Linked DNA regions of Homo sapiens: all the other regions are linked to region 1. Evidence: fine-mapped expression QTL. A gene starts in region 1. Each other region holds a variant in brackets. All regions are shown on one strand. Distances are between the middles of the regions. Region 1 holds the start of OAF (out at first homolog). Region 2 overlaps LOC124902773 (a long non-coding RNA gene). Region 3 overlaps USP2 (ubiquitin specific peptidase 2).

The links.
Region 2: its variant is fine-mapped to the expression of OAF in whole blood (TOPMed, PIP 0.94).
Region 3: its variant is fine-mapped to the expression of OAF in vagina (GTEx, PIP 0.98).

The regions. Positions count from the first base shown.
Region 1 is chr11:120,204,533-120,214,939 of GRCh38, forward strand. OAF (out at first homolog) reads left to right here and starts at 6,500. Exons shown (of 4, transcript NM_178507.4): 1 at 6,500-6,978. The coding sequence starts at 6,748. RefSeq lists an enhancer at 5,253-5,794 and silencers at 6,128-6,387, 6,568-6,617, 6,708-6,817.
Region 2 is chr11:120,175,010-120,185,416 of GRCh38, forward strand. LOC124902773 (a long non-coding RNA gene) reads right to left here. Exons shown (of 2, transcript XR_007062923.1): 1 at 10,241-10,407; 2 at 302-2,910. Among named protein-coding and RNA genes, the nearest start is that of OAF, 31 kb to the right of the region's middle. The variant C/A (reference allele first, on the strand shown) is at 5,646.
Region 3 is chr11:119,346,958-119,357,364 of GRCh38, forward strand. USP2 (ubiquitin specific peptidase 2) reads right to left here. Exons shown (of 13, transcript NM_004205.5): 12 at 10,230-10,350; 13 at 8,258-9,965. The coding sequence ends at 9,878. Among named protein-coding and RNA genes, the nearest start is that of MFRP, 5.5 kb to the left of the region's middle. The variant A/G (reference allele first, on the strand shown) is at 4,477.

The DNA of each region.
Region 1 (10,407 bases):
CAAAATGCTCTCAGGGACAGATGTCTGAGTCTCCAGGTAGGAGCAATACTGGCATCTGAAAAGGGCCTGAGGTCTTCCATTATAATGAGGTGGCCCAGCCTGCTCTGGAAGGTCCTGGATCACATGGTCAACAAGATTCTTGAGGGCAGGGACTGTGTCTCAGATTCTCTCTCCCATAGCCCAGTGCCAGGTACACAGGGCTACAGAGATGTCATTATTGAGCACCTTCTGCATACAAAGCACCATGCTGGGCATAAGGTGGACGCAAAGAGGGGCCAGGTTCAGCCTACAAAGACCGTGAGTGAAGGCGGTGACATGGAGCTCTGTGCCATGTCAAAGGAGGAGACGAGCCCTGGCTTCAGAACACCAGGCTTCTAATCTGAGCGGCACCACTTACAGCTGGCCTAGGTTCTTTTGTAGCCTCTGGTTTCAAACACAAATGCTGTGAAATAATTATAGCAAGAGGCAGAGGGTGAAAGGCACCTGAAGAGCTACCATAAAGGCAATCCCAGGGCTTCTCCCCAGCTACCCAACCTTAATTCATGGTGCCACAGCCTACGCAAGCCAGAACCAGGAGTTGCCCTTGACCGCTCCTGCTCACTTGCCCCAGTCCAAAGAAACATCAAATCCTACTCCCCCGTGTTGCTGAATTCCAACCCCTCTCCACACCCCTACTGCCACCACCACCACCCCACTCATCAGCACTACTTGTCATGGCCACAATCCATTTCCTGAGCACAATATTTTTAAAATACAAGTCTGATCATGTCACCCCTTATATAACACCTTTCGATGACTGCCCATTGATCTTAGGAAAACAAAACAAAACCAAGCCCAGTGCTAATATTGCCTCCAAGGCCCTGCGTTTCTTGGGCCCTGCCAAACTGTACTGCATGATTTCAAGCAACTCTTCACCCCCGTCATGCCCTAGCTACCTGGTGATGTTTCTGGGAAGCCCACCAGACTCAGGTCCTGTACACAAGCTGTTTCCTTTGCCTGGAACATTGTCTTTGCTGGTCAATGCTGATTCATCTTTTAAGATTAGGCTACACCTGGAAAAGCCTTCCAAGAAGGCCTCCTGGTCTAGGCTAGACTCTCCTCTAATTCTCCATTATAACAATTATAATTAAAATATTTTGTTTTGCCATGATTTTATAGCCTGCTTCTCTTGCATGTTCCATCTCAGGGTAAATAATTGTTGCATCTGCCTTGTTCCACTGCTGTGCCCACAGCATCTAGTGCAGTGACTCACTCTTCACGTGCTAGATGACTGAATGAACGAGTGAATGCATGAGTCTGGGGGTGGGGAGCAGGGAAGGCCTCATGGAGGAACTAGCATGGAGGAAAAGAGGTTATGTTTGGGACTTTTTTCTGTTTGTTTGTTTTGAGACAGAGTCTTGCTCTATTGCCCAGGCTAGAGTGCAGTGGCATGATCTTGGCTCACTACAACCTCCGTCACCTAGGTTTAAGCAGTCCTCCTGCCTCAGCCTCTTGAGTAGCTGGGACTACAGGCACACGCCACCATGCCCAGTTAATTTTTGTATTTTTATTAGAAACGGAGTTTCACCATATTGGCCAGGCTGGTCTCGTACTCCTGACCTCCTGATCTGCCTGCCTCGGCCTCCCAAAGTTCTGGGATTACAGGCGTGAGCCATCGTGCCCAGCTATGTTTGGGACTTTCAAGAGTCAATGGGCAACATGGAGCTCTGTGCCGTGTCAAAGGAGGAGACAAGCCCTGGCTTCAGAATGCCAGGCTTCTAATCTGAGCAGCACCACTTACAGCTGGCCTAGGTTCTTTTGTAGCCTCTGGTTTCAAACACAAATACTGTGAAATAATTATAGCAAGAGGCAGAGGGTAAAAGGCACCTGAAGAGCTACCATAATCAATGGACTAATCAATGGACTGAGATCTGCCTTGGCTTGCAGCTCTGATCATCCAGGCTTCCTTTTCCTTCCTGAAAGTCATGGATCCAGCCCACCTCCATGACAACTTCCCTTCTGCCTGGTTTTTCTGCCCGAAAAGAATAGCTTCTCCATGCCTATCCCAGCCATCTCCACTTCTCTTCCCTTTCCACTCAGTATCCCCACCAGCTGTCTCTCCAATCCACTTTCCCACCACACCCTTGATGGATGGAACTGCATAATTGTGTGATGGCGGAAAGCTAATTTGTACTTCTGTGCTGGCAATGAAGTGTCTGGAGCTTTGCAATTGACATTGAGAAGCAGAGGGGATCCCTCACTCCATCCCTGGTTCTCCCTCAAACTCAAATCGCAAATCCTCCACTCTATCTGCAAAGGCCCAGAGACAAAGGGGCTGTAACCTAACCCAAACCAAACAGCCACTCACAGAAAGTCATGGGAAGAAAAAAATCTTTCCAGTCTTGCAAAGACAAGCACCTGGTGGTTCTCTCCCTGTCTCTCGGTAAAGGTCATTGGTTCAGTTTCCCTTTCCACCTCCTGCAGGGTCTTGTCAGCACCTGTTTTCTTGGGCACAGATTGGGAGATGGTTTGGTGTTTCTCTTCCTCCCAAATTAAGGCACACTCAGACCAAAAAGCAAAGGGAAAGTGCCTCCCGAGGTTTTGCTGCTATCCATTTCTCAGTTTCGGAGGTCTCAAGACACAGAAAACTTAGACACCTAAAGAGGATAGAGAGGAAGAAATATTTCTTTTTTATGTATTTATTTTTTTCTTTGAGACCAACTCGCTCTGTTACCCAGGCTGGAATGCAGTGGCACGATCTCAGCTCACTGCAGCCTCTGCCTCCTGGGTTCAAGCGATTCTCGTGCCTCAGTCGCCGGAGTAGCTGGGATTACAGGCGCCCACCACCACACCCGGCTAATTTTTGTATTTTAGTAGAGACGGGTTTTGCCATGTTGGCCAGGCTGGTCTCGAACTACTGACCTCAGGTGATCCACCCGCCTCGGCATCCCAAAGTGTTGGGATTACAGGTGTGAGCCACCGCGCCCAGCCAAAAAAATGTTTCTGAAAGAATATGTGTACATGCACGCGTATACATGTGGCAGGGGGTGAGAGGGAGAGACTTGTATAATCAGAGATTTAGTATGTGATACAATGGGAAAGAATAAACAGAATTAAAGGATAACAGCCACCATTTATTGGATCTGTACTATATGCCAAACATGTTGCGAAATATTTTATGCACAATGTTTCATTTAATTTTCAAAGCAACCCAGTGAGGGAGAAACGTATGCGCCCATTTTACAGTTGAAGAAACAGGCTCACTGACGCACAGCTCATGACTGGGGCCGAGCTCCAGGACTGAGATCCTGATGCCCATTTTCTGAACCACTACTGGCTACTGCTTTCCAAGGGCTAGAGATGAGAAAAAAAAGGAAATTGGTTTATGGTGTGGCAGAGGTCTTGCGATGAGACATGAAGAACTCTCTGACAATGAGGGCTGTTTGGTTGTAGTCGGAGTAATTAGGCTTGTTAGAGCTCTTCCTCTGACGGCCTTTACATTTAAGATGAATGGATGCTTCTATGCCCGGATGGTTTGAGGGAAACGCTGTCTGTTCCCAGCACGGGGCTGGCCTGTTTGAACTAGCTGACGGCTTCACTGGGGATACAGGATTGCCACACGCGAAACCGTTAGATAACAGGAGAAGATAGCGCAGGATGTGAGCCCCGAGTGGGACTGGCAGAAAGTGAGGGCTACCGACAGGCAGAGGCTACTGTGGTTCAAAGCAAGGGCTTTGTGGTCAGGCGGGCAGACTTGTGTTTGAGTCCCGGCTGGCTCTACTGCTTTTGTGACCTTGGGTATGTTGCCTAACCTCTCTAAGCTTTGGTTTCCTAGTCAGTAAAAAGAGCCTAAGAATAGAACCTACTTTGGAGGGATGCCATGAAAATTAAATAAGATGATCCATGTAAAATGCTTGGCACAGAACCTGGACATAATCAAAATACAATGGGGGAGGAGCTGCTATAATAATGACTATTGTTGGAGTCCAGAGGCCGGAGACAGTGGCACAGAACAGAGGGCTAGGTCGGTGGGGAGTCGAGAAAGTCTTCCTGGGAAACCTGAGTTTTGTCCTGGAGCTTGAAGAGGTGGTCAGGTGAAATCAATAGCAAGGCATAGAGATGTAGGTAGGCAGGGCTTATGTAATGGAGTGAGATTTCAAATGCCCTATCACTTTCAAAGAAAAATCTGGTTTGATCTGTGGTTGAAGTAGAGAAGGAAGTTGACTATGGGGAAGAGGTGGGAAAGAGATGAGGTCTTCCATCCTTGTTTCCAAACCCAAAATGTGAACAGAGACAAACCTCAGGGACCTAAACAAGAAATCTGACATCCAGGGCTTCTTTGCCCACTTCTGGGCTGTTGTGGGAGGAGAAGGGGTAAGAGCCTGGGAAATGGCTGAGGGCAGAGCTGGTGGCGGATGGGGACAGGACCTGAAACAAGGGAAGTTAGGAAATGTGGGCGAGGCCCTTAATGACTGTGTGGGCTGACTCATGTGGGAGACCTAGCTTCAAGGCCGCATGGAGATCCAGCATCCTGTCAGGCGGGAGGCCAATTTCAAGACCCTGGGCATCTCTAGTCTAAACGGTTGCCAGCTAAGAGTGGGAGTCCTTAGGGGAGCAATCCTTGTGCTAATCCAATTATTCCCTAACAGCCTGCCTTATCTCCCGGATGTGAAGATGAACTCCTTAGGAGCCAGGTTCTCCAGGAAGGATGCTGCTTGTTTCAGATGCTCTATGTTTTTGTTTTGTTTTGTTTTGTTTTGTTTTGTAGAGACGGAGTCTTCCTCTGTCACCCAGGCTGGAGTGCAGTGGCGCAATTTTGGCTCGCTGCAACTTCTGCCTCCTGGGTTCAAGCAATTCTCCTACCCCAGCCTCCCGAGTAGCTGGGATTACAGGCGCACGCCGCCACACCCAGCTAATTTCTTTTGTATTTTAGTAGAGACGGGATTTCACCTTGTTGCCCAGGTTGGTCTCGAACTCCTGAGCTCAGGCAATCCGCCCGCCTCGGCCTCCCAAAGTGCTAGGATTACAGGCATGAGCCACCGCGTCTGGCCCAGACGCTCTATGCTTAAACATCTGCCAAATACCTGCTGTCAACCACTTATGTCGAGCATCATGTGGGCCTTGTCAAAAATGCTAATCCTCAGTTCTTTTCCCTAGAATCTGATTCCATGGGTTTAGGGATTCGGGAATCTATTTTCTAACAAGCATCCAGGTGATTCTTCAGGAAAGGCAAATTTGGAAAAGGCTGACTTGGTAGTCTCTTAAATTCCCTTCAGTCCTAAATCTAGGCAGCAGAGAGCGGGTAGCGGGAAGGGCCCCTGGATGATAGCAAGAGGCCGATTCTAGCCGGACCCTGCAGTTCACATGGCCCTGTGCTGGGGAAGCCCTAGAAGGGAAGGAGGCTGCAGAGAAGGGAGTTTTCACCCATCAGTAATCAAGGTCCCAACAGAAGTGAAAATGGAAGTCAGGGAACAATTGGTTTTGAGCATCTTCGTGGGGCTTTTTCCCTTGCCTGGGACTGGCAGGACAGTGTAGGTCTGAGCAGCTTCCACGATACACACGGGGACACTTAAGCCCAAAGAATTTTTAAAACGTGCCTAAATTCCACAACTAATCAGAGGAGGCAGCAATCCAGATCTCCTGGTCTTCACCCTTCTTATTGTTGGGGTGCACCGCAGGGCACGCATGTTTCCTTGTGGCTTGTGGGAAAGCCACTGTCGTGGAGCGCCAGCGTCCCGAGTCCCTGGAAATTCTCCCAAGTGACCTGGAATCCAACATTTCCCTGGATTTTCATAGTCTATAATAGAGAGAAAGAACCGGGTCTGCGGTGGTGGGCAGGACTGAGGAAAGGCCGTGAATGCGGGAAGCACGGGAGGCAGGACTGAAAAGGAAAGAGGCACAGGGGCTCACAAAACCTGAGGGCCGCGTCCCAGTGGGTGACCTGACCCATCAAGGTCTAACACCTGGCCGTGGCAAAGCTGGGCGAGAACCCCCGATCCACCCTCCCAGTGTGGGGCAGGGAAAAGGCAGAGTGCAAAGCGAGGTCTGATTTTGCAGAAGCTTTTTAGAAATTCGCTGTCAGAGAAACTGAAAGACCAAACAAAACCCCTAAAAATCCAAGCCCGATTATTTCATCCACGTGGCACAAAAGCAAGCCAAAAAAAAAAAAGCGGGGGGGGGGGGTGGCGGTGCAGGGCGGGGGAAGAGTCACCCGTCCTGCCCCTGCTGGAAGGAAGGGATTTGCCCCGGGAGAGCAAACTTCTGACTCCGCCTGGGTCGCTGACTCCGCGCGGCCGGGCGGGAGGGAGGTCGAGGAGGCCGCTCGCACAAAGCCGCGGAGCCGCTGCCCCCTCTCCCCGCCCCCTGCCCGGCCAACGCCGAAGTGCGGAGAGCAGCCGCGGGCCCTTTAAGGGCCGCGAGGTGCGCGGTCTCTTTAAGGCGGGTCCTGGTGGTTTCTGTTTTCTGAAGGAAGTGACGGGGGGTGGGATTGAATGAAAAGTGCAAAACACAGGCTCGCAGCGCTGGAGCCCGGGGCCGCGGAGCCGGGCCGGGGCAGCGCCGTCTCCGCCTCGGGGCCGCCGGGGGCGCCCTGCTGAGCGCTACCCACGTGCGTCCGCGCCACCTCGCGGGCGACCCCGCGGCCAAGGCCCCCGGCGGAGCGGCTCCCGGGCGCCCCGAACTAGCCCCCAACTTTGGGCGAAGTTTGCCTGCGCCTCTCCCCGCCCCCACGCGGCGCGCCGGGGCCGCGGACGGCAGCGGCCCCCGGGGATGCGCCTTCCCGGGGTACCCCTGGCGCGCCCTGCGCTGCTGCTGCTGCTGCCGCTGCTCGCGCCGCTGCTGGGAACGGGTGCGCCGGCCGAGCTGCGGGTCCGCGTGCGGCTGCCGGACGGCCAGGTGACCGAGGAGAGCCTGCAGGCGGACAGCGACGCGGACAGCATCAGCCTCGAGCTGCGCAAGCCCGACGGCACCCTCGTCTCCTTCACCGCCGACTTCAAGAAGGTGAGGCGCCCTCACTCGCCGGGGTGGCACCTTCAAGCCTGAGCCCCCCGGGATCCCAGGCGCTCTCTTGCCTGCAGACGGAAAGACGGGCCCAGGAGGGAGACGCAGCTGGCCCAAGGTCACGCCGGGCTCTTCTCTACACCTCTTTGCCCACTCCCCAGGGCCCACCCCTTCATTCTCTCCAAAGAACCCCTCTGCTTCCCTTTCTCACTCCCTCCTCCAGCGCTCCCAGAGCCCCCCAGGTGCTAACCCTCCTCCAGAACTCCTACTAACGACTGGACTCCCTTCTTGGAGTCATTCCCCTGTGCTCTAGTGGGAAAGTCCTAGGCGAAGTGTTCTCGCTGTGGGCTCTCACTGTGGGTTCTCCCTGTGTGATCTAGAGCAAGCAAGCCTCTTTCCTCCTATGGGCCTGGCTTCTCACCCCTGTACAGGGCACTGAGGGGTCTGCGAGGCCTCCCAGCCCTGACATTTTGGAGTCCCTCTGTCACCTCTCCCTCTGTTTCACTTTTCTGGGGAGAGCTGGTTGCCCCTGGTCCCTCTCAAGCCGGGAGAAGCCCTGTCTCCTCTTTGGTCTGGAAGGCTGGGGCGCTTGCAGCAGGAGGATCCTGGAGAGAGACCCCAGCTGAGGCCCCCTCCCTCTGGGAGAAGTGCTGCCCTTCACTCTGCCTGGCAGAGAAGCGAGCCAACCCCCCTATTTTGGCCCAGATTAGGGTTAGGGAGTTAGAGACCAGCCCGGTGGGTGGGTGGGTGGGTGGGTGTGGGTGTGTGGGTGTGTGTCCCAGATTACGGTTTGGGAGTTAGAGACCAGCCCGCTCTTGGTGTGTGTGTGTCTGTGTTGGAGGGAATAAGAAGGGCCTTGCACCCAGGGGGCTGGGGGATTATCAGGAAATGGGCCTGGATGGTGAGTGACTAACAGTGACCCAGCAGCAGGAAAGCTGGAGGAAAAGAGGGTGGGTAAGTCTTAGGTATTCAAAAGGAGCGTTCTGTCTCCTTCCCCCAGCTAAAGAGAGGCCCTGTGAGGCTCTGTCCCTGGGGGAGTGCAGGGGTGAAGCCGATTAGATAGCTGGGGGAGCCCGGGGCCCCGGGGACCCTTGCTGAAGCTGCCTGTCTTTCCTCCCTCGTAGAGACAGGGCGCTTTAGAGGAGAGGTGGCGGAGTTTGGGAAGTCAGTTAGGGACCCAGCCAGATTGCCATAGTTAGCAGGGGTGAGGGGTTAGGCTTGACCGCTAGAGGTGGGTGGGGTTGGGGGGTGAGGCTTGACCGCTGATTGCCCCAGGGCCACGGAGTTGGCACTGACATTGGACATAAGCAGGCAGATGGGGGGTGGGGTAGTGAGCGTTCACAAATGGGAAGACTTTGTAGCCCATCCTTACTCCGCAGGCCTAAGCTAGGCACCCTGCCTCCCCACCTAAACCCTAGGAGAATTTTATCAAGTGTGTTCTGTTCCTGAAAAATCTATGTTAGTGGCTGGATCCATCAGGAATCGGGGATCTAATCTTCTGTCCAAGCCCTTTGTCCTTGAAAGTTAGCCTTAGGCCAGGCTGTGAGGCTCCCAACCCCCTGCCCACTGGATGTCATCTTGTGGCTGCACTAGAATCCTGCAGAGAGACTTCCCTGGCTGTGGCCAGGACAGTGAAAGGCAATGGGTAGGGCTGAGCTTTTATAGCCTTTAGCTACATCTGGAAGGTTTTTATTGCTGTGATCTGAAGGGAGAGGCTAAGAAGTACCCAGGTAGCTGTGATGTGCTGGCAGTAGTGGCTGATGGCGGGGGTGGGGTGCTGGGGATTGGAGTGAGGGTATGCTGGTCATCTGACTGCCCAGTTAGAAAATGCATCTGGAGATTGTGAGCACCTCATTTGAATCTCTACAGTGGTTCAGACCTCCACCCAGGTTTCTAAAGTCTGATTTTCAGGTTAGCCTCTGACCCAGAAGCTACCATTTCATACCCACCTCTGGCATCTCCAATTTCATCAGCAAGGGAGGGAATTGGGAGTGGAAGACACCGAAAGGAAACCAGCTTTCCCAAGTCCCTTTAACTCCAGGTTTCTCCATTGGCCTAGGACGGGGTGGAGTTGGAGAGTGCAGTGTGGGGGAGAATAGCCTTACCCTCACCCAGGCCACTCACTCACTGCCTGCACTGGCCACAGCAGCTTCTATGTCCAGATCCTTCTAGGGTGGGTCACCTCTCAGTTCTCAAGGCCCCATGCCTCATAGTGTTTGTCAGATTTCCATAAGAAAGTTTGGTCTAGAAGGAATGATTTTTCCTATAAGAAAAAGACTTCGGCTCGGTGTGGTGGCTCACATCTGTAATCCCAGGATTTGGGGAGGCTGAGGCAGGCTTATCGCTTGAAACCAGGAATATGAAATCTTCAGGCCAAACGAGACCCCTGTCTCTACAAAAAATTTAAAAATTAGCGGAGCACGCTGGTGTGTGCCTTGTAGTCCCAGCTATTCAAGGAGGCTGAGGCAGGAAAACCACTTGAGCCCAGGAGCTGAGGCTGCACTGAGCTGCAATTGTACTACTGCACTCCAGCCTGGGAAGTCACGCTTTTTGTGTTTCTTGTACCAAACTCATTTGCAGTGATTTGGGAAAAGTCCTCATCTACTTGGGAAGAGCCTTGTTTGCCATTTGATCACGTTGGGGAGAACAGTCCAGACTGAATGAGACAGACTTGGTTTACCACTTATTAGCAGGTTCACCCTGGGCAAGCTACTTGATCTCTCCAGACCTTCATTTCTTCATCTATAAAATGGGGATAATAATAGCACATATCCCACAGTTAGTAGTGCCTATGACATCCTTACTCTGTATTAGATACTGTGTTAAGGGCTCAAGACATAGGAGCTGTTAGCTTTGCAATTGTGGCTCACACAGCATTTCAGCAAGGATCCTCTCTGCTAAACTTGGACTCAAAGACATTGAACAACGGACCCAAGGTCATGCAGAAAAGTCAGTACTGAGCCTGGAGGATCCTTGAGCTCTTCATCTTAACCTTCTCCTTGAAGTGCCAAAATTGCTGGCCAGCCCCTCAGAGCAGGAGCAGCCATCCTTGTCCTGACAGTCCACCCAGGGCAGCAGTGAGCCTCCCTGTGTGGGATGGGACCAAGGCTTCTGTCTGATTCCCAACCCTATCCAGCCCCCTCTCTCCAGCCCTTCCCACCTGTTTGCCTCTACCCGCGTCAGAGTTCTGACAGTCTAACTCTCTCCCACACTACTGCTCTGGACCTTGACGCAGCAAAGCAGTCACAGTCGTCAACCCACTGGAGGACACATAGCCTGGAGCCCAGGTGAGGCTTGCAGACTCAGTAGCTTGGAGCTATCAGATGGCCATCCTGCATTACTGCAAGCCCTGCCCAGAGGCTGAGTGAAGGCCATCAGGCTGACCGAGCCACAGCTCTGAAAGAATGCCGCAGCTCAGTGGCTCCCAGC
Region 2 (10,407 bases), 30 kb before region 1:
CTTGCCCCTGCTCCCTTGCACAGCTCTGACCCACTCCAGCCAATAAGCCTCAGCTTTCATCATAGCCACAAGCCTTGGGGGAAACTGCCCTTCATTCTGCAAGGACTGAGGCCTCCCTGTCATGCCCAGCTGCAAGAAGACTCAAGGGCTCCTATACGAGGATCTCAAGTGCTTGGAAAAGGGGTGTTACCCCAGGTGATGCCCTTTGTACAAGCCAAGGGGCTTGGTTTCCTATTAAGCCCGCGGAAGGAGTGGCAGTTAAACACCAAGCTTCAAAGAGTTGAGGATTTTCAAAAATCGCTTTTGGGGAATCTGCAGCTTTTATTGGAGGTGTCAGACATTAATGAGGGTTCTGGATCATTCCCAGCCTGCAGAGCCCTCTCTTCCTCTCTTCTCCGCCCCCACTCATTCCAGCAACCAACTTCCCCACTTTGATGAATCAGGAGAGGCTGAGAGTTCAAGGGGGTATTTCTGTCCCACTCTCAGCCCACCTTCTCCCCTTTTGCTTCAAGAAGATGTGGAAGCTGAAAGGACCCAAGATGGGGGAAGAGGGTACAGAACTCAAGGGAAGGGCTGGGGAGCAGGTTCAGACAGAGGCAAAAGAACCCAGCCTTGCTTACCTGCTCCTCTGGAAACAGTTTCGTGGCAAAGAATTAGGAATTCTGGAGCCGCCCGAATGCCAGCTGGGATGAAACCCTCAACACACGATCACTCCCTCTGGGCAATGATCATGCTCTTAGATATTTTGAGATCCTTAAATGGAAGGAGTTGTAGGAGCTACATTTTGTCCAAATACGTAGTTACATATGAGCTTTTCTTGACCGCATTTTCAATGCTGATTGAGTTCCCAGTCTTAGGATGTACCTAGTGAACATGAAAGGTAAGTGGCATATCCAAAACAAAGGTGTGCCTTCCAATTCACTTGGAACAGACAACATGCTCAGAAGTATTTGTGGAATGAATGCATGCATTTGCATATGCGTGAATGAATGAATGAGCCTGTTTTATCCTTCTCTTTATTTACGAAATGAAGACATTAGATTAGATGTTAGAAATTAGACACTGGATTAGATTAGACATTTAGTTTAGACATTAGAAATTACTCTTGCTGGTTAGGGATTGGAAACTCTGAAAAGACTATACCATGAGTTGTTAAAGGAGAGGTCCACTGTCCTACTCATGTTTCAATAAATGACGGATGGATGGATGGATGGATGAGTGGAGGAATATACAGTATTTTGACCCCTGGAGTTCTAGGGGAAGAATAAGACAAACATATATCATTAGTCCTGCCTGAGGCAGGAGGATGGACAAGATGACCTATTGGGTCTATTTCCAACCCAAGTATTAGTATCTATAGCCAGAATGTGCAATCAGAAACATTTGTGGCTAGACCCTGAGAAGATGTCATTACTCAGGTTTCTTAAAAGTTATTTTTCGCTAACTTGTGAACAGCCCTCAGGAAACTCAGTCTCTCACACTGGGGCAGGGTGGTCATCTCCACCGCTGGCCCCTGGAGCCCTCTTCTGATGCCAGTAACCATGATGACTCAACACGGTCACCCATCAGAGTCCAGGGCTCCTCCATTCTACTCAGAGAAATCCCCTGAAAGAAACTGGGGAAAGAGTTCTGTGCTTTTCTGAACACCTTCGTCCTGGAGAATGTGTCCCAGGTCAAATATAGAGAAGTGAAATGGAGATATACAAGGCTTATTGGTTCATTCCACTTGAGGAGCAGGTGGATCTTAAGAGCAATACACTGGTGGAAAGTTCACTTTTTAACTTCCAAGAACCAACAAAGAAAGGAGCCCACCTGACATTGACCTTGAGATAGACTTCTGTCCCATTCTTCTCCAGACCTCTTGGTCTCTCTCTTTGACTTCCTACCCTTTTCCTAAAGTCCCTTCTTTCTGGTTGCCTGGACCAGTGTCCCTGCCCCATCCCTTCCCACAGAAAGCCCCCTTATTGATGGCCTAGCTGGCATCAGTGTGATGGAAGCCTTTTAGTCTCCCATGGGAGAGCTGTGGTCGATGTCCTCAGTAGCCTAGAAGCAAGCCTGTCTCCATCCATGATGAGCACTAGCTTTTTTCTCAGCACCAATTATCTGGTCTCTTATGAAGAAGGGCTATCTTTCTGAGCTTGTCTTTGACCCTGCCCCTTATAAAACAATAGCCCCAGCATTAATTCATCTAAGGAGCATCACCCGTTCCTGAGCTTGGCTTATAGTAGAAGTGTCACCATGTCGGTTGTTCACTGTTCTCAGCATCTGGAATGACTAATGGTAGTCAGACTAATTCCTAACATCACCAGGATGAAAGGTAGGGAGGCCGCCTGTGAGTTCATTCTGCCATAAGAATTATCACAGAGAATGATCCATCCAACTAGGTCCTGTCTCTGACAGGGGTGAGGAGCATATGCTATTCTCATGATGTCCCATTGAAACGCTAGTGGGGGATGCGTCCAATAGTTTTATTCCCCCAGTTGACATTTATGCATGACTTGATCCTTTGTAGTTTACCCAATGTGTTCATGCACATTGTGTCTTCTAATCCAACTTTAGGAGGCTGATAGCATCGTTGTCTCCATCACACAGTAAGGAAGCTAAAATTTGGAGACTTGTCCAAGGTCATATAATTGATAAAAGGCTGAGTAAAGCCTAGAACACAGGTGCCCTGACCCTTCTGGCTTCTCCACTTTACCCCTTTAAGACATGTATATATTTCACCTAGAAGTCATATTGGTACTGAGACTGCTACTACACCAGCTGAGAGTTATAAAACCACTTTCCTCTTCGCCAGACAGGGCTAGAAGCTGGAGTTCTGAAGCTGCAGAGAGACAAAGGCCAGCACTTCTGATCCTCTAAAGCTTGGAAAGAAACCACATCATGAACAAAGACAGCTCATTGTATAATCTAGGGAGAGAGAGAAGAGGAGGAAGGGGAAGAGGAAGGAAGGAAGAAAGGAAGGAAGGAAGGAGCGGGAGGGAGGGAAGGAAGCAAGGAAGGAAGGAAGGAGAGGGAAGAAGGAAGGAAGGATGGAAGGAAGGAGAGGGAGGGAAGGAAGGAAGGAAGGAGAGGGAGGGAGGTAGGGAAGGAAGGAAGGAAGGAAGAGGGAGGGAGGGAGGGAAGGAAGGAAGGAAGAGAGACCATCAAACAATTCTCTAAAGATTTCTGGGAAATCACATACTCGATACAGAAACTGCATGCACACACATGTGCACACATGCATGCACACACACACACCCCCCACACACACGTCTGTATGAGGGTGTAATGGAACCAGCATAGGCTCTGGAGCCAGGTGGACCTGGTTAGTTTCCTGGCTCTAACATTACTGCTGTGAGTCTCTAAGTAAATCACCAGATCTCTCTAGGTCTCCTTTTTTCTTCATCTGAGAAGCGAGGGAATTAATACCCATCCAAAGACCTCAAAAAGCTCAAGTGAAATGTTGAGCTAGAGACTGGAGGAGACAGGACTGGGGGACGTGCCCAGTGGGAGGCACAAAAGCCCTAAGGGGAAAGAGTTTGAGACCCTCAGATAACCATCTTAGAAGTCACATTGAGGAAACCATTCTCCAGCATTCACAAACCCCAGAAGAAAGGTCACATTCTTTTCTCCTTACGATTTTGATACCAGGCCCAGTTTCCCTCCCTCTTAAGAATCCTTTCCACCCATCACCACCCTAATGCATCCTCCAGATTTGCCCAGAGGACTCTCAGTTGCCTCTATTCAGCCATGCTGATCTCTTCACCCTTAGCTTGTTTCTGTGCCAGAACCAAAGCCCCGTGGATGGGTAAACCTGAGACAGGCCTGGGCCTTCTGGCCTGAGCTGGGCCTCTCAACGGCGCACTGCAGAAACAGCAGCTGAGAGAGAGGGGCCTCACACTTACGGAGGCTAATGGAGGGCCTGGATATGTCAACCCAGAACTGAGATTTGAAAAGGTCCAGGGAGGGGAAAGGGCCAGGCCCACTGCACTCACTTTACTGACCAATGCCAAGGCCAAGGGCAAAACTGAGAGTCTGAGGTTGTTGAGCAAATAAGCTGAGCTAGCCTAGAGCTCTGCAAGAGAACAAAAGGAGGTGGAGATGGTGGTAGCCACCAAGGGCCAGAGAGGGAAGCTGGGCATTGATGAGATGGACAGTCTGCAGCCACAGGTGCCCCTGGACATCAATTCAGTGGACTGAGTCAGCAACCCAAGCTGGAGGCGTGGAGAAGGCGATTGGGCTGGAACAGGCCCCTTCAGAAATAAGCGTGGGTGATGAGCTGGGAAGGAAACAGAGGCAGCTACATCAAGCAGGCCCCTGGGAAGCTCCAGCGTTAGTGGCCCAGCACTGTTGCCGTGTTCCCAGGGCAGCTTTGATCCCCAGCACATGGAGTATCACCACAGGGGCCGGCAGTCTCTGTTGGGGGAGCCAGCCCCTCTCCTCCTTGCTGCCTCATTAAATCAGACCCTCCCCTACTCCCACTCTTCTTTGCGCAATATCTTGGATTTTCTTCTGCCCCCGACTTCCCCACAACACCCCACCCTCACACTCCTTCTTATTCCAGCCTTTCTCCTCCCTGACTCAGCAAGCGGGGAGCTGCCTCATCCAAGCCTAGAAGGGCAGGAACAGACACCCTTTGAAAGCTCCTCCGTGGCAACCTGCATCCTACTCCTGGCTGTGTGACCTGAAGCATTCCATGACCTCCCTGTGCATTGTTCCTTAAGAGAAGCGAAGAAGATTCCCGCCAGCCCCTGTACTCTGTAATTCTCATCTTCTATGCAATATTAGTGGGGATGGAATCTCCTATATTCTAGACGCTGAGCCAAGGAGCTTCAAGGCACTTGAAGTTCCGAGAAGTTAAAGCAATTACCCAAGATTGCACAGCCAGGCAGCAACCGAGCCAGGATTTAGAACTGTGATCTGTTTGCTTCAGGCCAGGTACACAAGAGCCTCAGCAGTTATTAAATGATTGGCTACAGATGATTTACAGATTTTTTTTTTTTTGAGATGGAGTTTCGCTCTTGTTGCCTAGGCTGGAGTGCAATGGCACAATCTCGACTCACTGCAACCTCTGCCTCCCGGGTTCAAGCAATTCTCCTGCCTCAGCCTCCAGAGTAGCTGGGATTACAGGCATGTGCCACCATGCCCAGCTAATTTTGAATTTTTAGTAGAGACAGGGTTTCCCCATGTTGGTCAGGCTGGTCTCGAACACCCGCCTCAGCCTTCCAAAGTGCTCGGATTACAGGCGTGCGGAACACCACACCCAGCCCAGATGAATATTTTAACAGTGACAGGGAGAGAAAGTCAGTGGGGTGTGCTGGCTGTAACAGCTCAGGGTCCCCAAGGCTGGCTGGGTCTATTACTAGAATCTGTTCACTCACCTTGTTCCCCTCTCTCCACTTGGGAATGCACAGCCTCTTCAGGATCCCCACAAGTAACAACAATGTCAGGGGGACCCACTGAATGGCCCCCTGGGAAATTCCAGCCCAGCTAATACACCCTCGGGGTCCTGTGCAGGACCCTGATCTCCTCTACAGGGAGTGACAGGGAAGGACACAGCTCTCACTTCCTCTGCAACGGGCCCCTGCAGCCCAGAGCTTGGGGCAGGAGCCTGGGGGAATTGGCTTGCGAGGAAGTCCTGGGTTTCCTGGGCATCTGACTCA[C/A]GGCCTAATTCAGGGGAAAGTTGCCTCCACCCAGCCTGGGCCCCAGCTTTCTCCTGTTAATTGAGACAATGACCCAGCTCCCAGGACTGCTTCCAGCTTGAAAGGGGCTTTAAGCTGCCGGGATGAAAGGCTGGGGTTGAGTACAAAGCAGCGCAAGCTGTCCTGGGAGTGGGAGGCTGGCCCTGGGCCTTCTCCAGTGCCCCCACCCCAACAAGGGCTGAGTCACTTCCTCCCTTCTGGCTGGATTTCACCTCAGTCATCCAGACACATCGAACTTTGGAGGGGCAGGTGATGGGGGGTGGAAATGAGGGGACGGAGGGGCAGCGGATGGTCCCAGAGAGTCAGGCAGGAACCTCAGTCACCACCAGAGGTCCCTATCCCTGGAGGGGAGGGAGGTGCTGAGGTCCTTGATGCTGGAGGAGCTGCGATCATGCATCATAGCTGCATGACTCTGCTCTTGATGTGTCTGGGGGAGCAGGATGGCTCATCCAAGAGCATCCTTGGTTACGCGTGAAGTAACCCAGGAACAAAGAGGCAAGGAGATTTCCCAAGGTCTCACAGTACATCTGAGGAAAGAGCAGATCTGAAACCTGTAGGCTCCCAGAGCCCCTCCCATGGGCACCCAGACCCCAGATCACTCACTCATGTACCTGTGAAGCTCCCCCATGAGCTCCATAGCACTGCACTTTGCATTGCGGGGGCACCATAGAACTACAGACACGGTCTTCGCCTTCAAGGAATTTCTTTTGCTGCTAGACTAATGTCTTATTAGTACCTGGAAGGATCACTAGATATTTCAGGATTTAAAACAACAACCAAGAAAGGGATGCTGAGAGGGAATGAGGCAGAGGTGAGAGCTCCTAAGGAAGAGGGTCCCCGGGCTGGCCCCTGCCACCACATCAGCACGACAAGGCCCTCCAGGACATTCTCCTCCTGCTGCCCTCAGGTGCATCCATTATACTAAGCTCACCAAGCCGGGCTCCTCGGGTTCTCTTGACCTGGGGGACCTCAAATCTTCCAGCTCCCAAGGGACTAGTGTTTCCATTCAGCATTCAGCATTCGGACATGTAATTAACAGCCAGAGCCCACTCTGAGCCAGGTCCTGGGCTATGGACAAAGAAGTCCTGGTCCTTGCCCACACAATAGAGAGGAACCATCTGCAGCCACTGGGCTGAAAGTCGCCTGTGCTGAACTGGGAGTCGGTACAGGCAGGATGCTGTGAGGGCCAGGGAAGCAAGTGCGATCGGGTTAACTCAAAGCACAGAAGACAACTCACTTGAACTTTGGAACCAAGACCCTTCCTCTTTCCTGTTTTGAGCCATCTCCCCCCAATTCAAGGCCTACCCTGTCATTCCTGACCTAGTGGAGGTCAAACTAAACCAGCCTGACCTAGTGGAGCTCAAATCAAGCTCTAAGCAGTTTCTTCCACTGGGCGCTTTCTCATCCTTGGAAACTCGCCAAGTGGAGATAATAATGGCATTAGTGGGTTGCGTGAACATGTATGAAGTCTTAGGACAGCACCTAGGTAGGGGGCAGGTGCCTCAGCCATTCTTGTTCCTTTCCTCTTGGTACTTTCAAATCCACGTGTATTCGAAAGCAATGGGAAGTGTTTGTGTAAACCGTGAAGAAGTCTCCAAAAGCATGGGTGGTTAAAAACCAGCACCCTAGCGTAAGGGAGACTGTGCAGTGATGGTAGTGGAGGGCTTTACCACAGAGGAGGTGCAGGCCTTTCTGTTGTTTGAAGTGGCTTGGGTGGAGTCTGGCCCGGAGGCAGGGGGCTCCCTGCAAGGACCTCTCAGGTTCCCTTTTAGTTGGGCCCATCTGAAGGTTGCAGAGAAGACACAGAGGGGTGGAGTATAAGCGACCCGTGGGCTTGTTTTTGCTAGTTTTCTGGGTGCAGGGCTTGCTCCTCCTGGCACTGGTCCTTCCTGGGGCCCTCGGCTCCAGCTTGTTAGTTTTAACTGGAACAATTTCCTTTGAACTCAGTTTGAATGAGCATCACCATGGCGATGGATCAGGGTTTTCACAAGTCGACCTGGTCTTCACCCCTTAAGCAATTAGTTCGAAGGAGAAAAGGAGAAAGAGGAGGAGGGAAGAGGGGAGGTGGGGGAGAAAATGGAAAGGAAGGGAAGGGGAGAGGAGGAAGAGGAGGAAAACTGGAGAAAGAGAAGTAATGAGGAAGGAGAAGAGGACGACACAGGAAAGATGAGGAGGAGGAGGAGGAGGAAGGTAAGGAGGCTGGGGAGGATGTGGCAGGAGGAGGGAGAAGGTAGGAAGTAGAGGAGAACCATTCTGCCAGGCTAAGCCCAGGGGCCTAGAGTACTCCAGAGGCCCTTGACCTTCCCAGCCTTTCCCACAGCCCCACCTACTGGGAGAAGCCAGAGAAGCAAAGGAACCAGATCTTTGACCTGCAGCCTGAGAGGAAGGACACTGTTCCAACTTTCTGCAGGGTCACCCAGGAGCCTGCTCATGAGCAGTCAGCACCCAGGCGACAAGCCCACCTTCATTCAGCCTCTTTCTCCTGCAAGACCAGGCTAGGAGGACACAAGAGCAGGGGCTTCGAGTCTGAGAACTGAGGAGAGGTGGCGGGTCCCCTAGGTACTTGCCCTAGAACCTTGGGCAAGCCAGCAGCCTCTGTCAAATGGCAAGGATGGCTCCTCTTCCTTGGGTTCAGGGAAGGAGTGTCAAGTGAGAAGGCTGGTTGCTCACAGGGGTTCTGTGCACTCCGAGAGCCCTGGCACAGACTCCACATGGTCTCCAGGGGCTCACTGCTTGCCTGCTTGTCAGCTCTCTCACTTGGCTGGGAGCTTCAGGGAGGCAGTGACTAGGTCTTCATCATCGTTGAATTTCTAGACACTAGCACAATGCCTGGCATGTTACATAGGCAATAAGTATTTTTCTGATGAATTAATGATTGATGAATTATTGTTATTTTTCCCAAAAATGGGTGGCAAGACTGGGGAAAGGAGACTAGCAAGCCTGAACCCACTAGAATTTGATAGAGATGAGATCTCCCTTTCTTCAGGACTCAGTATGTCCCCATGTCCTCCAAGAGGCCCTCCTGGATTTGCCACCCCGCGCCCCACCTCCCCAGACCCTTCACTCTAGAGCCCCACTGTGTTCCATGGCCCCTGCCATCATCCCCATCATCATGCAGTATAATCATTGATTCGCTCATCCATTTCCCCAGCTAGGTCAGCTCCATGAGAGAGGGACTATATCTGGTTCCCCAGGTCCTTGCACACTCCAGGCACGGAGCTGATGCTCTAACCATGTTTGTAAATACACGGACCTGAGTATTCCAGCCAGGGCCAGGTGTCAGGCTTTCTGAGGCCAGTAAAGGCAGTGCCTGGGGGAAACAAGCCTGTGAATGGAGGGCTCACCACACAGCATGCCAAGTGGAAAACAGGCCGGGAGAGGATGGGGGCTCCGGAGAGCTATCACTGATATCTACTCTACAAATGACTGAGGAGGAGAGGTGTTTCCTAGGCCGCCAGCCAGAACTCTGGCTATGAGATATGCCGAAAAGATTTAGGTTAGAAATCAGAATGACAGCCGGGCATGGTGGCTCATGCCTATAATCTCAGCACTTTGGGAGGCTGAGGCAGAAGGATCACCTGAGGTCAGGATTTTGAGACCAGCCTGGCCAACATGGTGAAACCCTGTCTCTATTAAAAATACAAAAATTAGCTGGGCATGGTGGCAGGCACCTGTGTCGTCACTATCTCCATCTGTCTTCAGAACCGTCCTGCTTCTCCCTCTCTGTCCCCACTTCTTACCCTTTGGCTCCTGTCTGTTTCTCCTTTCGCTCTTGTAACCTCCCTTCCCAGCCCTCACCACTGCTCCAGCCTCTTTTCCCAAGTCCTGCCTTGGCCTCTCTGCCTCTCCCTCCCTCCCCTTTCCTCCTCTGCTGCTCATTATAAAAAATAAATATTTCTAAATACGCCAAAAATGCACTCATCCCCCAAGGACCCCTGTCTAGCACAAAGGGCTGGTTCTTTCTGGCTGCTCCCTGTGGCCTCCTTCTTGCCCACTGCCTTTGAATCGTGGCCTCATTCACATGACTGGAAGGGCTAACAGGGCATTTTCCCACGTGTCCGGGTGGGGAGGAGGACAGGGTCGGGGTGGTAAGTTGGATGAAGGAGGGTGGAGACAGGCAGCTGAGAATCTTCCCAAAATTTGGCTCATCCTCAGGGGAAACAAACTGCTTACTTGATATCATGACTAACTCCTTGGAACCTACAGGATCCATTAGCGATGCGGGAAAGATTCGGGTTAGAAATCAGAATGACCATGCAAACCATGAGGACAGCCACCATGTGGAATGTTTGGTCCCCATGGCACAAAGATTTGGGCTTCTTCCTGGGATGAGTTGGGATCCCTTTGGCATGGAGGCAGAGGGGGGGCTCCGTGATTCCTGGGAGACCCTCTGGATGTGAGCACCTCTGAGATTCTGGAGGGAGCCCAGGGCTCCCTGTGCTCTGTCCTCCCACCCCACACCCCACCCTATGCTCTCTGCTCTCTGGTCAAGTCCCTGGTCCGCGGGAGCACTGACCTAGAGTGTGGAAGCTCCTCCCCTTGAAAGCTGGGCTGACCTTGCTTCAGCTGAGTCCAGGAGAAAACACACATCTGACACACCCCAGGGCTGGGGGAAGGGAGGCAGGAGCAGAGGAGGGGAGCATCCAAGGTCCTGAAGTTCCAGAAGGAGTCCAGCCTTCTCACAGAGCCTGAAGCATAGGCATGGGCAGAGCGGGTGCCGGAC
Region 3 (10,407 bases), 860 kb before region 1:
AGGCAGAAGGGAGCCTTAGGTGGTCTGAGAAAGAAGCAGGGTGTAGGGGGTGGACAAAGCCAGCTGCCCACCTTTCCTCCCCACCAGGGTGACAGGGGTATTGGCCAGGCCGGGTCTTTGGAAGGCCCCTGGTAGATCACCGGTGTGACCAGGACAAGAGAGAAGAACATGGCATGAGCAGGGGGACTGGCTGCTCATTCCTGGGACCCCTAAGCCCGCAGGAGAAAGGACAGGGAAGGGGGAGAAGGTGCCCAGGTCTTGGGGAGGGTTGGGGTGTGGAGTCTAGCCACTGGGGCTGTTGCACAGTAGGAAACCTACACCCTGCAAACAAGATTACTTCATGCCTGTTTCTCCATGGGCGAAGTCCTCTTGGAAAATCCCAGCCTAGCCCTGCTGTCCTCAGGGAGAAAGGAAAGGGATTGGTAATCTGTTTTGTGTTAGCCATGCTTAGGCTGAGAGTTTGGCAGGGAGGGAAGTGGGGAGAGAGCCTCATATTTCTGGCTACTATTTGTAGAATGTCTGGGCAAGAGGGCTACATGCAGTTTCTCTCCTTTCATAACTATGAGGTAGCGTCACCATTTTACAAATGCTGGTGCTGGCCTCTGAGAGGTTATGTCACTTTCCCAAGGTCACACAGCTGGTAAGATACAGAGATGAGAGTTGAGCCTAGGAATGGATAGATCTTAGGCTCACGTTTTCTATGATGTACCTCTTTCACCCCACATTGGGGCTGAGGCATGCTGGGGGAGCAGAGGGATCAGAGTGACATGGGGGCAGAGTGAGGAACCCCTTGGGGATGGAAGCAAAGAGGACAGGCTGCCCTCCTTGCACTCAGGAAAGGAGATGCCTCCACCCACAAGTTTTTCTCCATTCGTCCCTGGAGGGTCTTAGTTTGCTTTTGTCTAGGGGGTCAAGCTGTTTCCTAGACCCTTGGAAGTCTAATGGTACATGGTCTTTAGGGAAGAGACTTTTTGGGAGCTGTAGGGACAGGTGCTCTTGGAGAGGATCAGACAGTCCCTGACCACAAAGTACTTCTCATTCTGGGTGGATCAAGACAGAGCAGGATTCCTGCCACACTGTGTGTTAAGAGCCTGGCCACAGGGGCAGCTTCCTGGACAGAGTGGCCCTGCGCTGAGCTTTGAGAATGATGAGCTGGGAGAGCCACGCCCTTGGGTCTGCTCCTCTGAAGCTGCTCGTTCGCTGTGATCATTGAGAGAGAGGTTGCTGTGCCGGGGTCTGGCCAGGCACTGGGCTCATGGAGCCGACTGAGACAAGGTGCCCTCGTCTCAAGGAGCCCCTGCTCTGCTGTGACAGTTCTCAAAGTGGGGCCCGGGGCCTTTTTTTAGAGGACTTGAGAGCTTAGAACTAGGCTCATAATAACACTAAGACATGATGTGCCTTTTTCACACTCATTCATGTTTTCCAGACGCTCCGTGACATGTGATATGACATTGGGGTGAATGCTGAAGGAGACGCGAGTCCAGCTGCCTTCTATTAAGCCAGATGCTAAAGAGATTTGCACAAATATAAAGCCACACTGCCATTCTTACTAATTTTTTTTTTTTGAGACGGAGTTTCGCTCTTGTTGCCCAGGCTGGAGTGCAATGGCGAGATCTCAGCTCACCACAACCTCCACCTCCCGAGTTCAAGGGATTCTCACACCTCAGCCTCCTGAATAGCTGGGATTACAGGCGTGTGCCACCATGCCCAGCTAATTTTGTATTTTTAGTAGAGATAGGGTTTCTCCATGTTGGTCAGGCTGGTCTTGAACTCCTGACCTCAGGTGATCCACCTGCCTCAGCCTCCCAAAGTGCTGGGATTACAGGAGTGAGCCACTGCGCCCGGCCCATTCTTACTAAATTTTTTTTTGTTTCAGAAAATATAGGAGGTTTTTTAAAATTTTTTTTTAATTTTTTTTAATTTACAGTTTTAGTAGAGATGGGGTCTCACTATGTTGGCCAGGCTGGTCTCAAACTCCTGGACTCAAGTAATCCTCCTACCGCAGCCTCCCAAAGTGATGGGATTATATGGTTTAAAAACATTATTGGCCAGGCATGGTGGCTCACGCCTGTAATCCCAGCACTTTGGGAGGCCGAGGTGGGCGGATCATGAGGTCAGGAGATCGAGACCATCCTGGCTAACACGGTGAAAACTGTCTCTACTAAAAGTACAAAACAAATTAGCCGGGCGTGGTGGTGGGCGCCTGTAGTCCTAGCTCCTTGGGAGGCTAAGGCCCGAGAATGGCGTGAACTCGGGAGGCGGAGCTTGCAGTGAGCCGAGGTTGCGCCACTGCACTCCAGCCTGGGCGACAGAGCGAGACTCCGTCTTACTTTAGCTTGTAAAGGGTTCATTATATTAAAATTTATTGTTTAAAAATTAGTAAGAAAATACTTAAATTTCTCTCGGCTTTAATATTAATTTGGTAAATATTAATAGATAGAACCCACATAAAGCAAAGGTCTTTGGGGTTCTCCATAATTTTTAAGAATGTAAGGGAGGTCGGGTGTGGTGGCTCATGCCTGTAATCCCAGCACTTTGGGAGGCCGAGGCAGGTGGATCACAAGGTCAGGAGATCGAGACCATCCTGGCTAACACAGTGAAACCCCATCTCTACTAAAAATACAAAAAAGTTAGCCAGGCGTGGTGGTGGGCGCCTGTAGTCTCAGCTACTTGGGAGGCTGAGGCAGGAGAATGGCATGAACCTGGGAGGTGGAGCTTGCAGTGAGCTGAGATCGTGTCACTGCACTCCAGCCTGGGTGACAGAGCAAGACTCCGTCTCAAAAAAAAAAAAAGAAAAAAGAATGTAAGGGGGTCAGCTGGGTGCGGTGGCTCACGCCTGTAATCCCAGCACTTTGGGAGGCTGAGGTGGGTGGATCACCTGAGGTCAGAAGTTCAAGACCAGCCTGGCCAACATGACGAAACCCCATCTCTACTAAAAATACAAAAATTAGCCGGGCATCGTGGTGAACGCCTGTAGTCCTGGCTACTTGGGAGGCTGAGACAGGAGAATTGCTTGAACCCGGGAGGCAGAGGTTGCAGTGAGCCGAGATTGCGCTGCTGCACTCTAGGCTGGGCAACACAGCAAGATTCTGTCTCAAAAAAAAAAAAAAAAAAGAAAAAAAGAATGTGAGGGAGTCTTTTGAGAAGTGTGGTTCACTGGACAGAGATGAAGACAGTTTACTGGGCCGTAAGTCTGGAGATTAAATGCTGGGTAATCCGAAGAAACAATGACTTCCTCTGATGGGGCCAGCAGGAGGACTTCCTGGAAGAGATGAGCCTTTAGTCTAAAGTTTGAGGGTTGAAAAGGATTTGAATAGGCAGAACTTGGGGGTTGGTTAGGGAATTCCAGGAAGGAGGAGAGGCTTAGCACTGTGGCCTGAGGAGCTTGGTCACAACTGGGTCTCAGAACTATTCCTGTGAGTGGGGAGACAACAGAAGGGAGGCCAAGGGGAGGCCTGGAAGACCAGGAAGCTTCTCTCTGCTTTGCTGTTACCCACGGCCATCCTCGACTACACCCAGGATGTAGTAGAGGCCGCAGAGTGCCTCTGTGGGCACAGGCACTCCTGCAACTGTCTGCGTTATGAAGGGGTTTCTGGAGGAAAGGAGGGGAGCCAGGGGCCAGCTCAGGGTTGGGGAGTGGCACACCTAAAACACACTGAGAGTGAAATCCACTGCAGACCCCTCAGCTCATTGCCTCACGTCATCCTTATTCCAGCCCCGGTGGCAAGAGGAGGGAGGTAGGTGTTTTCTTCTCATTTTCTGGATGCCACCAAGGCTCCTGGAAGTTAAGTGCCTTTGCCCAAAGTTGTACAGTTGCCCAGGGGCAGGGCTGGGTTGCAGAGCTGGGGCTGTTGGAGTCCTGGTTTCCACTTTTTTTTGTTTTTGTTTTTGTTTTTTTGAGACAGGGTCTTGCTCTGTCACCCAGGCTGGAGTGTGATCACAACTCACTGCAGCCTCCACCTCCCAGGCTCAAGCAATCCTCCTACCTAAGCCTCCCAAGTACCTGAGACTACATGTGTGCACCACCATGCTTGACTAATTTTGTAGAGAAGGGATCCCCCTATGTTGCCAGGTCTCGAACTCCTGGGCTCAAGCAATTCTCCTGCCTCGGCCATAGGCTTCCCTAGTCTTTAGAAGCATGAGAGATAGCAGCTCAATCCCATTACTACCTCCAAGAGGCAGATGCCCCCAAATATCAGAAAATTGGAAAAGCCAATTCCTTGATTTTGGAATCCCTATTTAACGGGCACTCTGTTTAGTTTGGGCAATGCTATACTTACATACATCAAGTGTATTGTTAAGGAAGAGAAGATAGAAGCATCCAGAGAGATGAGAGGAATTAAATATTTGCTAAATAGGGACAGTGTTGGTTTAAAAAAAAATTTGCTGAGGATCACCCACCATGAGAATCTCAGTGGAGCTTTGATGGTATAGTCCTGGAAATGGGAGTTGAGCGGGGGAAATGGAAGTTTGTTG[A/G]GTTGTTGAGTACCTACTATGTGCCAGACACCCACCCATCCCATCCCCTCCCCTCCTCTGTCCTCCCCTCCCCTCCCCTCTCCTCTCCTCTTTCCTTTCTCCCTTTCCTTTCCTCTCTCTCTCCCCTCTTCCTTCGTTTTTTTTTTTTTTTTTGTGTGTGTGCATGTGTGTGTGTGACAGGTTCTTGTTCTGTTGCTTAGGCTAGAGTGCACTGGTGTGACCACGGTTCACTGCAGCCTCAACCTCCTGGTCAATTGATCCTCCCACCTCAGCCTCCCAAGTGGCTGGGACTACAGGTGCATGGTGCTATGTCTGGCTAATTTTTGTACTTTTTGTAGAGACAGAGTTTTACCATGTTACCCAGGCTGGTTTCAAACTCCTGGGCTAAAGTTATCTGCCCATCTTGGCCTCCCAAAGTGTTGGAATTACAGGCATGAGCCACTGTGCCTGGCCAGACACTGTTTTTCTTAACTGGCACTCACAACTCTGAATAGGTAATGTTATGCTCAGATTACAGATGAGGAAATTGAGGCTCAGAGAGATTAAGTAACTTGCTTGGGCTGTGAATGTTAGTCTCTTTCTGCTGCCTCCTGCATCCTGCACAGGTGCTTGTTTCTGCTCGTAGAGCAATGAAGGATGGGGACCCTCAGAGGTGTCCAGCTCAGACAGACCTACTAGGGTCCAGGTAGGAGGCAGATCATGGTGGTTTTGCTGTTGGGTATGTGTGAATGTCACACTGCTGTTTGGCTCAGTTCCTAATAGATGCAGGGTTGGAAAATTTGCTGCAGAAAGTCCTGCAAAATGCTGTCAATTATTCAAACTAAAGACAGAGTACTCGGAAAGAGAACTGGGTAGGGAGTCAAGATACCCAGGTTCCATCCTGTCTCTGCTTCTGACATGCTATGTGGCCTTGAGCAAGTCTTCTCTAGGGCTCAGTATCCTCACTGCCAAATCGAGATCATGGACAAGGTGACCTCTATGATCTAACTCTAAAGCTTTGTAGAGGCCGGGCATGGTGGCTTACGCCTGTAATCCCAGCAGTTTGGGAGGTCAAGGCGGGTGGATCACCTGAGGTCAGGAGTTCGAGACCAGCCTGGCCAACATGGTGAAACCCTGTCTCTACTAAAAATACAAAATTAGTCAGGCATGGTGGTGCATGCCTGTAATCCCAGCTACTCGGGAGGCTGAGGCAGGAGAATCGCTTGAACCCGGGAGGTGGAGGTTGCAGTGAGCCGAGATCACATGACTGCACTCTCACCCTGGGTGACACAGTGAGACTCTGTCTCAAAAAATAAATAAATAAAAAAATATATAAAATATAGCTTTATAGAAAGAAGTAAGCATTCTGAGCATTGGTCACTTAAAAAAATTCTATAAACTGGAACCAGGGAACTAGAGTTAAGTTCCGTATCTTGGGACTTGAGCATGTGTTTAGAGGAAAAGTGACTTAGAATGATTGATAACATGGGAGTGGAGACCTTCAAGATCCACAAGTCCTATCTCAGTAATTTGCAGATGAGGCACGGAGGCCCAGAAAGAGGGAGGTTCTTGTTCAAGGTCACACAAGAGCAGTTGCAGGGGAAGCCCCTCCCCTAGGGAGAGGCCTGCTGGATCAAGAGCAAACAATGAGGGAAGAGAGCCAAGTTGCTAGGAGGCAAAGCTTGATGGACAAAAAAACGTGGGGACAGACCTGCGTGTGTTTGTGCTCTGTGTAACACTAGGACCTGTTGCCATGGGGATGAGAAAGCACCACAGATTAATTACTGAAGAGCTGGGAGCAAGGGTGGCGGACCTGAGTGGAGCCCCTGCCCTCAATGTCTCCTAGAGTCCATCTGTTCCCCAGTGGAAGACAGCAAAAATTACAGGGCTGCTTCTACCTCCAGTGAAGAACTAGTCAGAGTACAGCCATTCACTTTGCTACAAGCCTCATGTTTTTATTTTGAGGGGATCCTGTTTGCCTGCGGCTTGGGGGCAATCATCAGGGTAAGATTTCCAATCACAGCCTGGGTCAGGCCACCCTCAGGGCAGGCCAGGGAAGTTTGGGTCCCTCAGGGAGAAATTCCAAGTTTTAAGTCACTGTCATTTTCAATCCCTCTTCTTCACTCTTGGGAAATGCTTAGAAAAATGCCCCCACAACTGTCCCCCTCCATGAGGTGGGTTTGATAGCAGCACACAGGCCTTAAGTGACAGCAGGTGCTTCTGTCTCAGCAAGGATGGAATAGTCAGGCCTTTATTTTTCAGTGTCTGGAGCAGTGAAGGCAGTGAGGAAGAATCCTGATGAAACACTCCAGGCTCACCTGGTGGAGCCTTCAGCTTCCCTAGTTCTAAGACCAGCAGCAGAAATGGAAAAGCTGAACAGTGCTAATGAAGAGGTGACACCAAAGGAGACGTGGGTCACCGAGTGCACCAAAGGCATCACCTCTTTTAGGGGTTAAATCTGAAGTCTTGAGAAAAAGCACTTTAGGGAACAAAGCCTGTAACATAAAGGTAACTGTTTCTAAGTATTAGGTGGTAAAGCTGAGATCTTTGACTTATCAAAGACTAAGCCCTGGCTGGGCGTGGTGGCTCACGCCTGTAATCTCAGCACTTTGGGAGGCCGAGTCAGGCAGATCACCTGAGGTCAGGAGTTCGAGACCAGCCTGACCAACATGGAGACACCCCCGTCTCTACTAAAAATAGAAAAATAGCTGGTCGTGGTGGCGTATGCCTGTAATCCCAGCTACTGGGAGGCTGAGGCAGGAGAATCGCTTGAACCCAGGAGATGGAGGTTGCAGTGAGCTGAGATCATGCCATTGCGCTCCAGCCTGGGCAACAAGAGTGAAACTCTGTCTCAAAAAAAAAAAAAAAAAAAAAAAAAGACTAAGCCCTGGTCACTCCACATCCAGGTAATGATACTCTGCTCTAAGAGCAAGTTTTGCTATATTTGACATCTGCTGGAGAGATGTATTTTATCTTATCATAGGTCTGTGAAAACACCCAAGTGTTTCTTTTTTCATAGAGACAGGGTCTCACTATGTTGCCCAGGCTGGTCTCAAACTCCTGGCCTTAAGCCATCCTCTCACTTCAACTTCTTGAATTACTGGTGTGAGCCACCATGCCCAGCCCCAAGAGTTTCAACCAAGAATTAAGAGAGTAGCCCATACCAGCATTAAAAAGTAGACAGTTCATTAAAAAAAAAAATGGACATGTGAAAACCATGTCACATAGGAGAATGTCCTGATTCTTAGGAGATGTATGCTCAAGTATTTAGAAGTGGTGATATAACACCTCACCTGAAAATGTTTCGGCAGACAGAATAAAGTACAGTTGACCTTTGAACAATGCGGGCTTGAACTGTGTGGGTCCACTTTCACGTGGATTTTTTCAACCAAATAAGGATAGAAAATACTGCATTTGTAAGATGCAAAACCCACATATATAGAAGGCTGATTTTCATATACGCAGGTTCTGCAGGGGTGACCTTGGGACTTGAATATGGTGCAGATTTTGGTATGTGTGTATCTTGGAACCAATCTCCCTGTGTATACTGGGGGATGGCTGTATATTTAAATGTGTTTGTAAACAATTGGTGAATCCAGATGAAGAATATAGTGTCCAAAATATGTATTGTTTCAGTTTTTAAAAAATTAAACTTAAATGTTCAAACTAAAAAGTGGGTAACTTTTTCCAGAAACTTGGAATTTACAAACTGGTTGAAACAATGAAATAGATGGCCCCTAATATACTAGGAGCCCTTCCTAGATTCAAACACTCCCAAATCAAGATTCCAACATCTGCCAACTGATTTCTCAAAGCTATTATTTATTCTGTACAAGGTTCCACTGTACATTAGACATTCTTCTACTCTTGCTTACACAGTAAACAAGTGTACACTTGCCCTTGGGCTCAGGTTCACAGGTCTTCTCTGGAGAAGGGTGTCAGGCCAGTAAAACTCAGGGTGTCTTTCTCTGATGCCTCCTCCTAGGAGCCTGGAATGTGCCAGGCTCCACGGGGCACAAGCCGGGCCCAGCTGTGTGGGTGAACAGCTTTACTCTCCAGGACAGCACAGAGTTTTATCCAACTATGTAGGGCAAAATTGAGCCCACAGGAAAGAACCATACAACTGAGGCAAGATGTCCCCAAATACCCAGGCTCCAGCTCCCAGGGCAGGACTGGAGACCAGCGCTAAGAAGAGCTGAGGGGTGGCCTGGGCATCCCTGAGAAACTCGGTCCAAAGGGCCTATTGTCTAGGAGGCTCTGAGAAGGGGGCGGGGGCAGGAAGGCCAGGGGGAAAGGGATGTTAAGAGAATAAATAAAAGGGAGAGAAGCTCTAGGGACGAGGGGCTTGTGCTATCCTTCAAACAGCTGGGGAGCAGACCAGGGGTGGGCTAGAGGACGTGGGCGGGAAGAACTTGATGCCCTGTCGGAAGGAATCTACCTGCTTTCTTCTTTGCCTCACTGCAATGCACAACGAGCCAGGGCTAAGGGCAGGATCCCTTTCCCAGGCGGGTTTGAACAGAGCACTGGGGAAAAGGGAAGAGGCTGAGGGATATTTCAGGAGGGGCAGTTACCCCCTGGTCCCCAAATGCTATAAGGCACAATTCTTGGAGGCAACTAAATTCCATTCAAAACATTAAAAAAAAAAAAAAAAAACCCAAACCCCCAAAACAGAAACTTGTTTTAGATCCCAGGTCTACTGTGGCTGTGCTTGGGGCCTGGCCAACGCCCACCTAGCACCACGGAGGGCTAGCATTAGAAAGTTGTACTTGGAAAAGCAATAAAAGGACCAGTGCAACGTCCCAGCTATGAAGAGGCCTGAAGGAGAGCACTCCAGTCTGAACACTTTAGTTATGGAAATTAAAAAAAAAAAGTTGGGCTTTTTAAAAACCAAAACCAGCGTTTTCCAAAGATGTCCCTTCGTCTGTCCCCTGGAGTTAGCAGCGTGAAGAGGGCTCTTGGCTCATGGCTCTGGACCGGCGAGCCGTGCGGGTGGAGATGGGCGCCGGCTCCTCCGCGGCGCGGGCGTCCAGGCGGTGATGCTCCCAGCGAGCTCCAGAGGGCGCTGTCCCCTCGGAGGCGCGGGCGCTGCGGCGGGAAGCGGCGCAGCGAGGGTCTTCCCCCCCAAGACACAGTTGTTTCTGACACATAGGAAGACCACAAGTTTACAAATGCAAACGCCGAGGGCACGGGGCGATGCTGGCTCCACGTCCAGGCGATCTTCCCTGCCGGGCCACAGCTCAGGAAAGCCCGGCTCCTTGCTCCAGACCCTGATCAGGCTGCATCCACTCCTGCTCGGCAGCTTCAGGTTTGTTTTTCTCTTGTCAGGTTTGTGTGTTGTTGTTGTTGTTTTGTTTTTGTCTTTTTAAAAAATTTAGGGAGCGGGGCCACCACGGGGAAGGGAGAAGGGACGTGGCTCCTGGCGCTACATTCGGGAGGGCGGGCTGGCCAGTTCGTAGAAGAGCAGGTAGGCGTCGCTGGTGCGCACTTGGCTGGAGGACATGGGAGTGACGCTGCGGAGAGAGCGGGGAGTCAGCCCGGAGCGGGCAGGACCGGGAGACCCCCCGCCGGCTTCTTTCTGTGCCCCCGAGGCCGGCCGGCCTGCCTTTCAGGGAGCCTCCCCACGGGCAGCGGCTTCGTGGCCTTAAACTTTGCCATCCATTCTCGGTGTAAGCCGTGCGGGGGGTGGGAGGGGGGTGGGTTTGGGGGGAGGGTGGAGGAGTGGGGGGAGAGTGGGTGGCTACAGCCAGGGGCTCCGGCCCTGCCCTGGCTCTCACCTGGAGTCGTTGAAAGTGTGCCATTCTCCTGTCCCTGGACTGCGACAGTAGGCTGTATAGTGGCCACCCATGGTGGTTCCGGAGTGATTGGACACAGCGTACAGGTTGTAAACAGCATGGTCTGAGGAGGAGGCAGCCGTCAAGCCCCCGAGGCCCCCCTGCCCCGACTTCCCCCCTC